Regions from separate parts of the Homo sapiens genome. Here regions 2, 3 and 4 are each linked to region 1. The links come from fine-mapping of genetic effects on gene expression. A gene starts in region 1. Each other region holds a variant in brackets. All regions are shown on one strand. Distances are between the middles of the regions.

What was found. PIP is the estimated chance that this variant, and not a neighbour inherited with it, causes the effect.
Region 2: its variant is fine-mapped to the expression of PSMF1 in whole blood (TOPMed, PIP 0.99).
Region 3: its variant is fine-mapped to the expression of PSMF1 in lymphoblastoid cells (GTEx, PIP 0.97).
Region 4: its variant is fine-mapped to the expression of PSMF1 in nasal epithelium (TOPMed, PIP above 0.99). The same link has a PIP of 0.9 or more in lung and pancreas.

Annotation. Positions count from the first base shown.
Region 1 is chr20:1,117,399-1,120,086 of GRCh38, forward strand. PSMF1 (proteasome inhibitor subunit 1) reads left to right here and starts at 1,204. Exons shown (of 7, transcript NM_006814.5): 1 at 1,204-1,504. The coding sequence starts at 1,376. It overlaps LOC105372493 (a long non-coding RNA gene), which reads right to left and starts at 1,050. Exons shown (of 2, transcript NR_136535.1): 1 at 986-1,050; 2 at 454-590. RefSeq lists enhancers at 955-1,597, 997-1,046, 1,057-1,106, 1,117-1,306, 1,347-1,476.
Region 2 is chr20:1,142,239-1,144,926 of GRCh38, forward strand. The region is part of intron 4 of PSMF1 (proteasome inhibitor subunit 1); the gene reads left to right. Among named protein-coding and RNA genes, the nearest start is that of PSMF1, 25 kb to the left of the region's middle. The variant A/G (reference allele first, on the strand shown) is at 1,193.
Region 3 is chr20:1,086,890-1,089,577 of GRCh38, forward strand. No RefSeq gene overlaps it. Among named protein-coding and RNA genes, the nearest start is that of PSMF1, 30 kb to the right of the region's middle. RefSeq lists an enhancer at 1-203. The variant G/A (reference allele first, on the strand shown) is at 1,571.
Region 4 is chr20:1,163,943-1,166,630 of GRCh38, forward strand. PSMF1 (proteasome inhibitor subunit 1) reads left to right here. Exons shown (of 7, transcript NM_006814.5): 6 at 376-534; 7 at 1,087-2,688. The coding sequence ends at 1,138. Among named protein-coding and RNA genes, the nearest start is that of TMEM74B, 20 kb to the right of the region's middle. The variant C/T (reference allele first, on the strand shown) is at 1,462.

The sequences.
Region 1 (2,688 bases):
GCGATCTTGGCTCACTGCAACCTCCACCTCCACCTCCCGGGTTCGATTGATTCTCATGCCTCAGCCTCCCGAGTACCTGGGACTAAAGGCGTGCGCCACCACACCCAGCTAATTTTTGTATTTTTAGTAGAGACAGGGTTTCACCATGTTGGCCAGGCTGGTCTCAAACTCCTGACCTCAAGTGATCCGCCTGCCTCGGCCTCACAAAGTGCTGGGATTACAGGCATGAGCCGCCACACCTGGCCGATCTGACTTGTTTTCTAACAGAATCTCTCTGGTTGCGGAGTGCAGTACAGACTAGAGAGAGACAGGAATGGAATGGGGCAGTTCTGAGGCTGATGCCAGGCATCCAAGTGAAAGATGACAGGAGCTTGAACCAGGTTAGTGACTGGGATGGGGAAACTAAATTTATTTGGGTAAAAACAATAAGTGGATTTCATGAAACTTGTTGAAGTAACGGGTGGTAAAAATCATAAAGGGGGTAGGCAAATAAATGATTGAAATTTGATAGTGGGTCAGGAGCTTCAGCTCTGCGGGCAGCAGTTGTGTCTCCTTGGAGAAGTGGTTTCAACTCTGAGCCGTTTTGTCATCTGCAAAATGGGGATAATAACGGTCCATACTTCATAGAGTTGTTGAGAGGGTGATGTAAAGGTTTTAGCGCACGATGTAGCACACAATAAACACTTAATAAATGTTATCTTAGAAGCCAGACTGCCAGGTTCCCATAACCATTTCAGCCGTTCACCGGCTGGCTGTTGTCATCTTGGTCAAATTATCCCTCTGCGCCTCAGTTTCCTCATCTGTGCAATGAGGCACATTAATCGTTAATATCAACTGCATAGAGTTGGGTTGTGAAGATTAAATAAATGAATACAAGTAAAGCGTTTAGAATAATGTGGACGGTAGCAAGCACGGCGAACGTGTTAACGATTATTAAGAATGTATTTTAGCCACATTTCCCAGCCCCTTCCCCGGCCTAGCATACCCCATTTTGTGGATGGGAAGTCTGCCTCTCAGCAAGGTGGCCTCTTGGAGGACGCTGTGCCCGCGTCAGGCGATCCTGTCGACTGCCGCCAAGACCCGGCTTCCGGCTTTGAGGGGCCACGCCCCGCTCGCACTCCCTGGCGGAACCTTTCAGTGCTGCGCTCGCGTTGCCAACCCGGCGCGCCTCACGCAGTTGCGCCCGCTGTTGGGACTACTTCCGGCTTCCCCGCCCCGCCCCGTCCCCGGGCGTCTCCATTTTGGTCTCAGGTGTGGACTCGGCAAGAACCAGCGCAAGAGGGAAGCAGAGTTATAGCTACCCCGGCCGCGGAGCCGGCTCACTGCACTACCCCCGCCCCCTTCTTTCCTCCAGACGCCGAAGTCGCGGGCGCTCATGGCGGGCCTGGAGGTACTGTTCGCATCGGCAGCGCCGGCCATCACCTGCAGGCAGGACGCGCTCGTCTGCTTCTTGCATTGGGAAGTGGTGACACACGGTTACTTCGGCTTGGGTGTCGGTGACCAGGTACGCCACGGAGCCGGCCAGGGTGGAGGAGGGAACTGTCTTCTGCCCAAACTCAGAGTACCGGAGGCCTGGTCCAGAGCGCCCGATTTCCCCGCTTCTCCCAGTGCAGGGTCTGGGGCAGATGGCAGCGTTGGTAAAACCTGCGGGTCGGAGGTTGCTCACCTGCCCCATCCCAGCCCAGAGTCCCTCACGGCACAGCTGGCACAACATGATTTGTAAACTCAAGGGCGGACACTCGCTTCAACACAGCCTGGCAGCCTCTCAGGCCAGGACTGTGTGGATCTAGCATTCCATAGAATGGCAAAGAATCTAGACAGGAGTTTAGCTCCCCAGAGCACTTCTCACCCACCTGATCCCGTCTGAACTCCTTACCACCCAGCCTCGGGGTGAGGGGACTGACTCAGTTCCGCCCTCATACCACAGTAGAGCCTCCACCAAACATCTGGATCCAAGCACAGGTACAGGAGTGAGCTTTGACCTACTCAGCCCCAGGCCAGGGCCCTTTTTTCACCCGTTAGCATGGGCCCAGAGAGTTCACACGCCTTTCACCCTTTACTGAAGGGCCCAGCATAGTCCACTCGCTACTGCCATCCCCAACTCAAGCTCTAGGAAGCAATCACCCCCAGAGTCGTACACACATACACCCTGGGTGTGAGGGTCATATAAGATTTTCTCCTCATAGTTGTCCCCATAGGGCCAGCCCCTCTTCTCCCATCCCCAGGCTCCACCTCTTACAGCTAGGGACGTCGTTGTCATCCCCACAGAGTTCTAGGACTGCTGGACCCAACCCACCTCACTAATTCTTTGCTCTGGCATTCTTCTTTCTTTCCTGTCTCTTCCCTGTGACCCTCATCCCCAACATCCACATCATCCTAGACATCTGCTTCCTGGGAGAAGTGGGCCTGCCTCCATGCCTGCCCCTCACTGTCACTGTTCTCTCACTCTCAGAACCAAGACTAGCCATGGGAAACAGACCACCCCACCTATTGCATCTTGCCATGAGATTTCACCCTTCCTCTCCTTTTTGACTGCTTCAGTTCTCAACTCCTCTAATCATTTTTTTTAGCTTCTCAAATAGAGTCTTAATTCTCCCCTCCTGACATAGCTTTAGGGACCTCTCTTCAAACTTGCTTTGTACATTCTGAGCACTTAGACAAGTATCCCCTTTCCCCCACCCCTCACTG
Region 2 (2,688 bases), 25 kb after region 1:
AACAAAAACTAAAATAACTCAGCTATAATTCTTTTTTTTTTATTGTTATACTTCAAGTTTTAGGGTACACGTGCACAACGTGCAGGTTAGTTACATATGTATACATGTGCCATGTTGGTGTGCTGCACCCATTAACTCATCATTCAACATTAGGTATTTCTCCTAATGCTATCCCTCCCTCCTCCCCCCACCCCACAACAGGCCCCGGTGTGTGATGTTCCCCTTCCTGTGTCCAAGTGTTCTCATTGTTCAATTCCCACCTATGAGTGAGAACATGCAGTGTTTGGTTTTTTGCCCTTGCAATAGTTTGCTGAGAATGGTGGTTTCCAGCTTCATCCATGTCCCTACAAAGGACGTGAACTCATCATTTTTTATGGCTACATAGTACTCCATGGTGTATATGTGCCACATTTTCTTAATCCAGTCTATCATTGTTGGACATTTGGGTTGGTTCCGAGTCTTTGCTATTGTGAATAGTGCCGCAATAAACATATATGTGCATGTGTCTTTATAGCAGCATGTTTTATAATCCTTTGGGTATATACCCAGTAATGGGATGGCTGGGTCAAATGGTATTTCTAGTTCTAGATCCCTGAGGAATCGCCACACTGACTTCCACAATGGTTGAACTAGTTTACAGTCCCACCAACAGTGTAAAAGTGTTCCTATTTCTCCACATCCTCTCCAGCAGGTATAATTCTAACAAAACTTGTATAAGATTTTTATACTGAAAACTACAAAATGCTAGTGAAAGAAATCAAAGAAGATCTAAATAAATGGAGAGACATAACATATTCATGGATTAAAAAATCAGCATAGTAAAAATGTCAGATACTCCACAAATTGATACACTATTTTAATGCAATTCCTATCAAAAATCCCAACAAGAATTTCTGCAGATATAGCAAGATACAGCAGATAATATTTATATGGAAAGGCAAAGAATCTAAGATAGCTATAACAATTTTTTAAAAGAATAAAGTAGAAGAAATCATTCTACCCAATATTAGGGCTAATTATATAGCTAAAGTAATCAAGATGGTGGAATTGGCAGAGGGACAGACATATAGATAAGTAGAACAGAATAGTGAACACAGAACTAAGACCAGCCAACTTTTGACAAGGGTGCAAAAACAAGTCAATGGAGGAAAGAATGTCTTTCAGTAGATGATGCTGGAGCAATTGGATAATC[A/G]CAAGCAAAAATATGACCCTTGACCTTAACCTTCTATAAAAATGACCTCAAAGTGGATCATTGATTTAAATGTAACATACAATACCACAGCACTCCTAGAAGAAAACACAAGAGGAAATCTTCAGTGTCTCAGGCTTGGTGAAGAGTTCTTAGATACAGCACTAAATGCACAGTGTTTAAAAAGATGCTAAATTGGACTTCATTGAAATTTAAAACTTTTGCTCTGTGAAAGACCCTGTTAAGAGGATAGAAGCATAACCTACAGTTTGGGAGGCAATGCTTGGAAACCATATATTCAACAAAGGATTCATATCTAGATAAAGAACTCTCAAAATCAACAGCTTAAGAAACTATCCAATTAGAAAATGGAAAAATGAAGGCCAGGCATGGTGGCTCATGCCTGTAATCCCAGTACTTTGGGAAGCTGAGGTGGTTGGATCACCTGAGGCCAGGAATTCGAGATCAGCCTGGCCAACATGGTGAAACCGTGTCTCTTCAAAAATACTAAAATTAGCGGGTGTGGTGGTGCATGCCTGTAGTCCCAGCTACTCGGGAGGCTGAGGCAGAGGATCACTTGAACCCGGGAGGCGGAGGTTGCAGTGAGCCGAGATGGCACCACTGCTCTCCAGCCTGGGTGACAGAGCAAGACTCCGTCCCCCCCAAAAAAAGAAAAAAATGGAAAAATGATATGAAGAGGTAGTACACTGAGAAGGATGTACAGATGGCAAAGAAGCAATGAAAAGATGCTCAGCATTGTTAGCCATTAAGCTAGGTGAAATGCAAATGAAACCACAATGGGAGTTTCACACCTATTAGAATAGCCAAAATTAAAAATAGTGATGATACTAAATTCTAGAGAGAGTGCAGAAAAACTGGATCATGTACACTGCTGGTGGGCATGTCAAATGTTACAGCTACTCTGGAAAATCATTTGGCAGTTTCTTAAAAAACTAAACGTGTACATAATAGTTAGCTCCAGGAATCACACTCCTGAACATTTATCTCAGAAAAATGAAAATTGTGCCCACAGAAAAACCTGTACACAGATGTTCAGAAGAGTTTTATTTGTAATAGCCAAAAGCTGGAAATAATCTGATGTGCCTCCTCCAGTGATGAATAGTTAAAGGAACCGTGGTTTATCCATACTGTGGAATACCACTCGGCAGCATAAAGGAATGAATTGTTGAAACACAGCAATTTGGTTAATCAGAGTTATTATGCTGAGTGAAAGAAGCCATTCCCAAAAGGTCACATATTGTGTGATTCCACTTACATAACATTTTTAAAATGACACAGTTATAGAGGCGCTAAACAGATTAGTGGTTGCCAGGGGTTATGAGGGCAGGGCTGTAGGTGTGGTTATTAAGGGGAGTAGCATGAGAGAGATCTTTGTGGTGGTTTAACTATTAGAGGAAACTGAGTGAAGTATATTGGAACCTCTTGTGCTGTTTTTCCAACCCCCGTGAATCTTTTTTTTTCTTTTTAGACAGAGTCAC
Region 3 (2,688 bases), 31 kb before region 1:
GAAAACATAAAGGCAGCAGCTACAGCCCCTTACACTGGGCCTTCTGCAGCCTTTCAAGTTGTGATGTGGCCTGAGAGAGGAAACTTGCAAATATGATTAAGTGTGGGTGAGTTGTTGAGTTGTACCAGGGGCCATGCATTCATTCATTCATTCATTCATTCACTCAGTCTCACAAGGCACCATGCTAAACACTGGATGTACAGTTTTCATTGATCATTCATTCAATCAATCATTCATTTACTAATATCCCTGGATCAAACACTGAGCTAAGCTCCAGGGCTATAAGTTTATTGTTTAATGGGAGAGGCAGACAAGAATTAAATAAATAAAAACAATTGCTGTTAAGAATAAAGTACCAAGAACTAAATAAACTGAGTATTCATCCAGCGAGGAGAAAGAGATCATCTTTACAATAGGTACTTAGGGAAGGCCACTCTGAGGAGGGAACAGTGCCTGTAGGCACCATGATACATAGAAGCCAGTTATTTAATACAGGGCATAAGGGGATCATATGTCAATAGAGGTTTGTACTGTTGCCATGTTTGGGAGGATTAAGGAAAGCCGCAGAGAGCAGATGTAGGAGTAAGTGTAAGCCAGTTAATGCTGTTGTTACAACCCTGAAGTCTGAAACCACAGAGGTAGATATTTTGCTCAACACACGTGTCGTGGTTTGGCTGTGGCTCTGCTCACACCATCATCGTCATCCTTACTCCAGGGCCCAGTTGCTGAGGCCTAAAGAAGAGAGAATTCTCAAGGGTTTCAAACCTGCTGTTAAATGCTCCAGCCTGGAAGAGACATGTGTTACTTGTACCCACAACTCATTGACCAGCTCTTATCACATAACCTCAATCCAACTACAGGGGGGCCAATAAGCAGTATCCTACACTGTGTCTGGGAGATACAGACATGTTTGGTGAAGAGCCACCTCACTGTGGACTGAGCTTTGCAGCAGAGAAGCAGGACATGTGAATTGCAGACAGAGGAAATAGAATGTGCACAGACACAGAGGGATAAAATAGTTTGGAGTGTTCGGGTAGCTAGAGTACTGGCAGGGCTTAAAATGGAGCTGAAAAGGTAGCCATAAAACCCCCTGAGATGGGTACTATTATGATTTTCATTTCTGAGATGATAAAATTGAGGACACAACTAGTGAATGGTTGAACTGATACTTGAACTGACACAGTCTGATCCTAGCATCTGAACTTTTAATCCTCATGCCATATTGCCTTTAAGGTATGGAGGGACCAGAATACAGAAGATCTTTAATGCCAGGAAGGAGATCGGCCTCAACAGGCTAAGCAGTAATATTTTTACAAGTCTTGGTTGTGGTTGTTTAAAATACACACATTTTTTATGCATATTAAATATACAGATACATTCTTCTTTCCTAATAAGAAATGCGGTCCCCCTTGATTATTTTTAAAATGGGAGATTCTCTTAGTGTATCTTTTCTTTGCCGTCTTTTGATATAGAAGAGCTTTCAGGGAAGTATTTCTTTACAGTAAGAAACAACCCAAGGATAATTGTTAATAATCACTGAAATTCATTTTCTCCTTTAAGGATACAGTCA[G/A]GAATGGTGGGATCTGTGGTAAACTAGAAAGAATTATGTCTCTTGCAAAGAGGGAAGTTGTTGTTCACTTCCATCCTATTGTCACATGTGGAAATGTGGAATAATTTAAATATTTTAGATATTTTGTGAAATCTCACAATTTTAAAATATCAACTTAAAGCATGGTACAAGCCTAACAAAACACATCTGTGAGCCAAAATGCTCATGGAAGCATTGATTTTTGTCTTCCATATGGTGGCCAGCCTCTAAGATGGCCCCAAATTATCCCACATCCTGGTATTTATTCCTTTGTGTCATCTTTTCTACATTGAATTACAACTGGCCTGAGTGATCAGTAGAATATGGCAGAAGTGACAGCGTGTGACTTCTGAATCTAGCTCCTAAGGGCACTGAGCTTCCACCTTGTTCTCTTAGACTGCTCACTCTGAGGACAGCAGTCACCATGCCATGAGGACACTTAAGCTGTCTTGTGTTGAGGCCCATGTAAAAAGGAACACAGGCCCCACCCAGCCTATAGCCAGTATCAACTGTCCAGCTATGTAAGTAAGTCTCCTTGGATGTGGATCTTTCAGCCCCAGTCAAACCTTCAGATGAGCATAGCCCCAGCCAATACCTAACTGCAACCTCATGAAAGGTCCTGAGCCAGAACCACCTAGTCAAGCTGCTCCCAAATTCTTGACTCATAGAAACCATGACAGATTGGTAAATGACTGTTGTTGTGTACAGCCAGTGGTTAATGAACTATCTCTAAAGGGCCTAAAAGGAAGTATTTTTGTCTCTGTCACGATAATTCAACTCTGCAAAAGCAGCTATAGATGATACATAAATGAATAGGTGTGGCCGTGTTCCAACAAAACTTTATTTACAAAAACAAGCAGCAGGCCAGATTTGGCCTGAGGATTTTAGTTTGTCAACTTTGAGTTTAAGCCACTATGGTTTGCAATTTGTCATGTGGTCATATATAACTAATCCACTCCCTGAATTCGTGAAGTGGCCTGAATAGAACATGTTTCAGACAAAGCACATTGTTAGTAATTTAGAGGCCAAATTAGAAGAAGCTAGTGGAAGGGTGAGCCTGGAAGGGCAACGGTTCTAGGAAGAGATGATGGGCCCAGGCT
Region 4 (2,688 bases), 47 kb after region 1:
CCCTGCAGAACCTTGTGAGTGCATTGTAGTTGACCTTGGCAAGTTCTGGCTCTTGGTCTTGATCAAGTTGGCCCTCTTGAGTATATGATATGGCAGGGATCTCAATTTTGAGGAGCCCTACAGAACCAAAAGCACTGTGCAGAACCAACCCCTGCAGAGCCAGAAGTACTCAGCTGTGAGGTATGCTCTTCGTATAGGCTTTGTGTTCTTGCCCTTGCCCACTTTCCGCTGGCTCTCAGGCAGCCATCCACATGTCTGCTTGGGCCATCCAGAGTAGACATCCCAGCCATTCTTGGTGCATTGTAACCTCCCTCGCCTTTTCTCCAAGGGCAGTCCTTGCCACACCTGCTTACCTAACTTTTCTTCTTGCCTCAGGCCTCGGAGAGGTGGCATGATTGTGGATCCCCTGAGATCTGGCTTCCCAAGAGCACTTATTGACCCTTCCTCAGGCCTCCCGAACCGACTTCCTCCAGGCGCTGTGCCCCCAGGAGCTCGCTTTGACCCCTTTGGACCCATTGGGACCAGCCCACCCGGGTACGTAGTCACTCAGGTATGCTGAGAAGTAGGACCTGATGGCAGCTTGGTTCAGTGTGGCAGCAATGAAGGTTTCTAGCCCCAGGCACAGAGCTGCCGCTGCCTTCACCTGTTGCTGCCAGGAGAGTGGAGCCTCCTCCAGGGCCCTGCCTGATTTCTCCCTGGAGCCTTCTAGGAGCTTCCTATCCCTCAGTGCCTCTCTTTCCCCAGCTCCACTCTGGGGAGGACTCAAAGTAGGAGGAACTAACAATTCTTGAAAGTTAAGTATGTGGCAGAAACTCAGTGGATCCTTTCTTCAGCAGTCTTGGGTAGATGGTGGCGTCTACATTTTATAGATGCAGAAAATGAGGCCCTGAAAGATTAGGTAACTTATACCAAGCGGGGGAGTCAGGATTCAAACCCCGGTTGTCTGGCTCTTGAGTGCATGTGTTTAAATTCCTCACACCGCCACATCATGTTGAAGGGCAGGCTCCCTCAGTGCAGGGTCATGTCTGCCCATGTTCCCCTGGTCTCTCCATCACTCCAACTCATCAGCCCCTCTTTCCATTCCAGACCTAACCCAGACCATCTCCCCCCGCCGGGCTACGATGACATGTACCTGTGAAGGCCTCAAGAATGTAACATCCCAGGCTTCCCTCCATTCTCCTGGAGCTGCCACCGCTGTCCCCATCAGCAACCATGTTCTTGCAGGCTGGGGGCAAGGGATTCTGCTCATGTGTTTGCAGACCGGCTGGGATAGCCTCCCCACCCCTTATCAGAGCCAAGACACCTGCTGCAGCTCTCCACCTAGCTGCAGATAGCTCCCAAAGAGAAATCAGTGTGTCTCTTTCACCATCAGCTCCTCCCCTTTCACCACCAGCTCCTCTCCACTTCCCAAGGGAGACTCCGGCAACCTTCAGCAACATATATCCTCGACCAGATGCAGTG[C/T]TATAAGAACAGAACGCATTTTGGATGTTATTATTAAGAACCAAATGTCAATACAGAATTCATGTTGCCGGTTTCCCACTTTTCTTTTTACATTAATGCATAGCTGCTTCCATTTATGAGACTTTAGAGTTTGAGTTTCTGTAGGGCTGAATGACTCTTTTTCCTGCCCAGGGCCCATTCTTGCTTCTCAGGCACCTTCCGTTTATTAATTGCCATTGCTCCTGACATCACTAAGATGGGTCCCCTTCTGGCTGCATGAATGGAAATGAGTGACTGGAAATCCCATAGGCCACAAGAATGACTTTCACAAGGGCAGGAACATTGTGGAAAGACTGCATCATTCTGATGAGGCAAAATCCTCCAGCTATTCCTGTCTGGGCCAGTTTTGTAGGTCCATCTGTGCATGGGCAGCAGTAGTCAAAAAGCCAAGGAAAAAACAGAGCAGACCTGAAGGCTAATCTTATTTTTGCCACTAACTTAGTGAATGACCCTAAGCAAGTTCCTTCTCCTCTTAGGGCCTTGTGCCAAGCCTATGAAATTGGAGGTGGCTTTCCTGCTCTAAAGCATTTTGATGTCTCATTCTGTGTTTGGTAACCCCTATAAACTGGGGCAGAGGAAAAGAATGATGGTTCAAGGCCATACTTCCCTTGAACCTTGTGTGGTTCTTGCCTAACTCTGTGGTTTTTGGACCCCATGGGGCCCAGACAGAGCACAGGAGCATGGGCTGCCTCTGAGTGTGGTGTTGAACTTCGGGAGGAGCAGGGAGCCCTGCACCTTGTGTCCTGGCCCACCTGACCTTTGGTGTTCTCCGGATCCTTTTCAGCCCGAGGCCTGACAGACGCGGGCAGTGATGAGCCCTGTTCTGGAGTGGAAAGAGCACGATAGAGCACCAGGCTAAGAGGCACGAGATCAAGGCGGTAGTCACTTCCGCTCTGCAGCTAGCATTTCAACCATATGTGGATCCTTTCATTTCTCAGCTCCCTGGATTCCTTCCCCTAAATTAGGACCTATTATTTACCTGTAGGTAAGCAAGCTACTGTAGCTCTTCTGAGGTATCTGCCAGGCTGTTTTCTGTAGCCTCAGATTGCCTATCTGCTTAGCCTGAGAACAGGTAGATGAAAACTAAACTGATGCCTAGGCCCAGGGTCAGTCTCAGATGGAAGCTGGGCCTGGGTGGGGAGGCTAGCATGCGTGGCTCCCTGGGTATTTCTGTCAGTCCCCATGGCA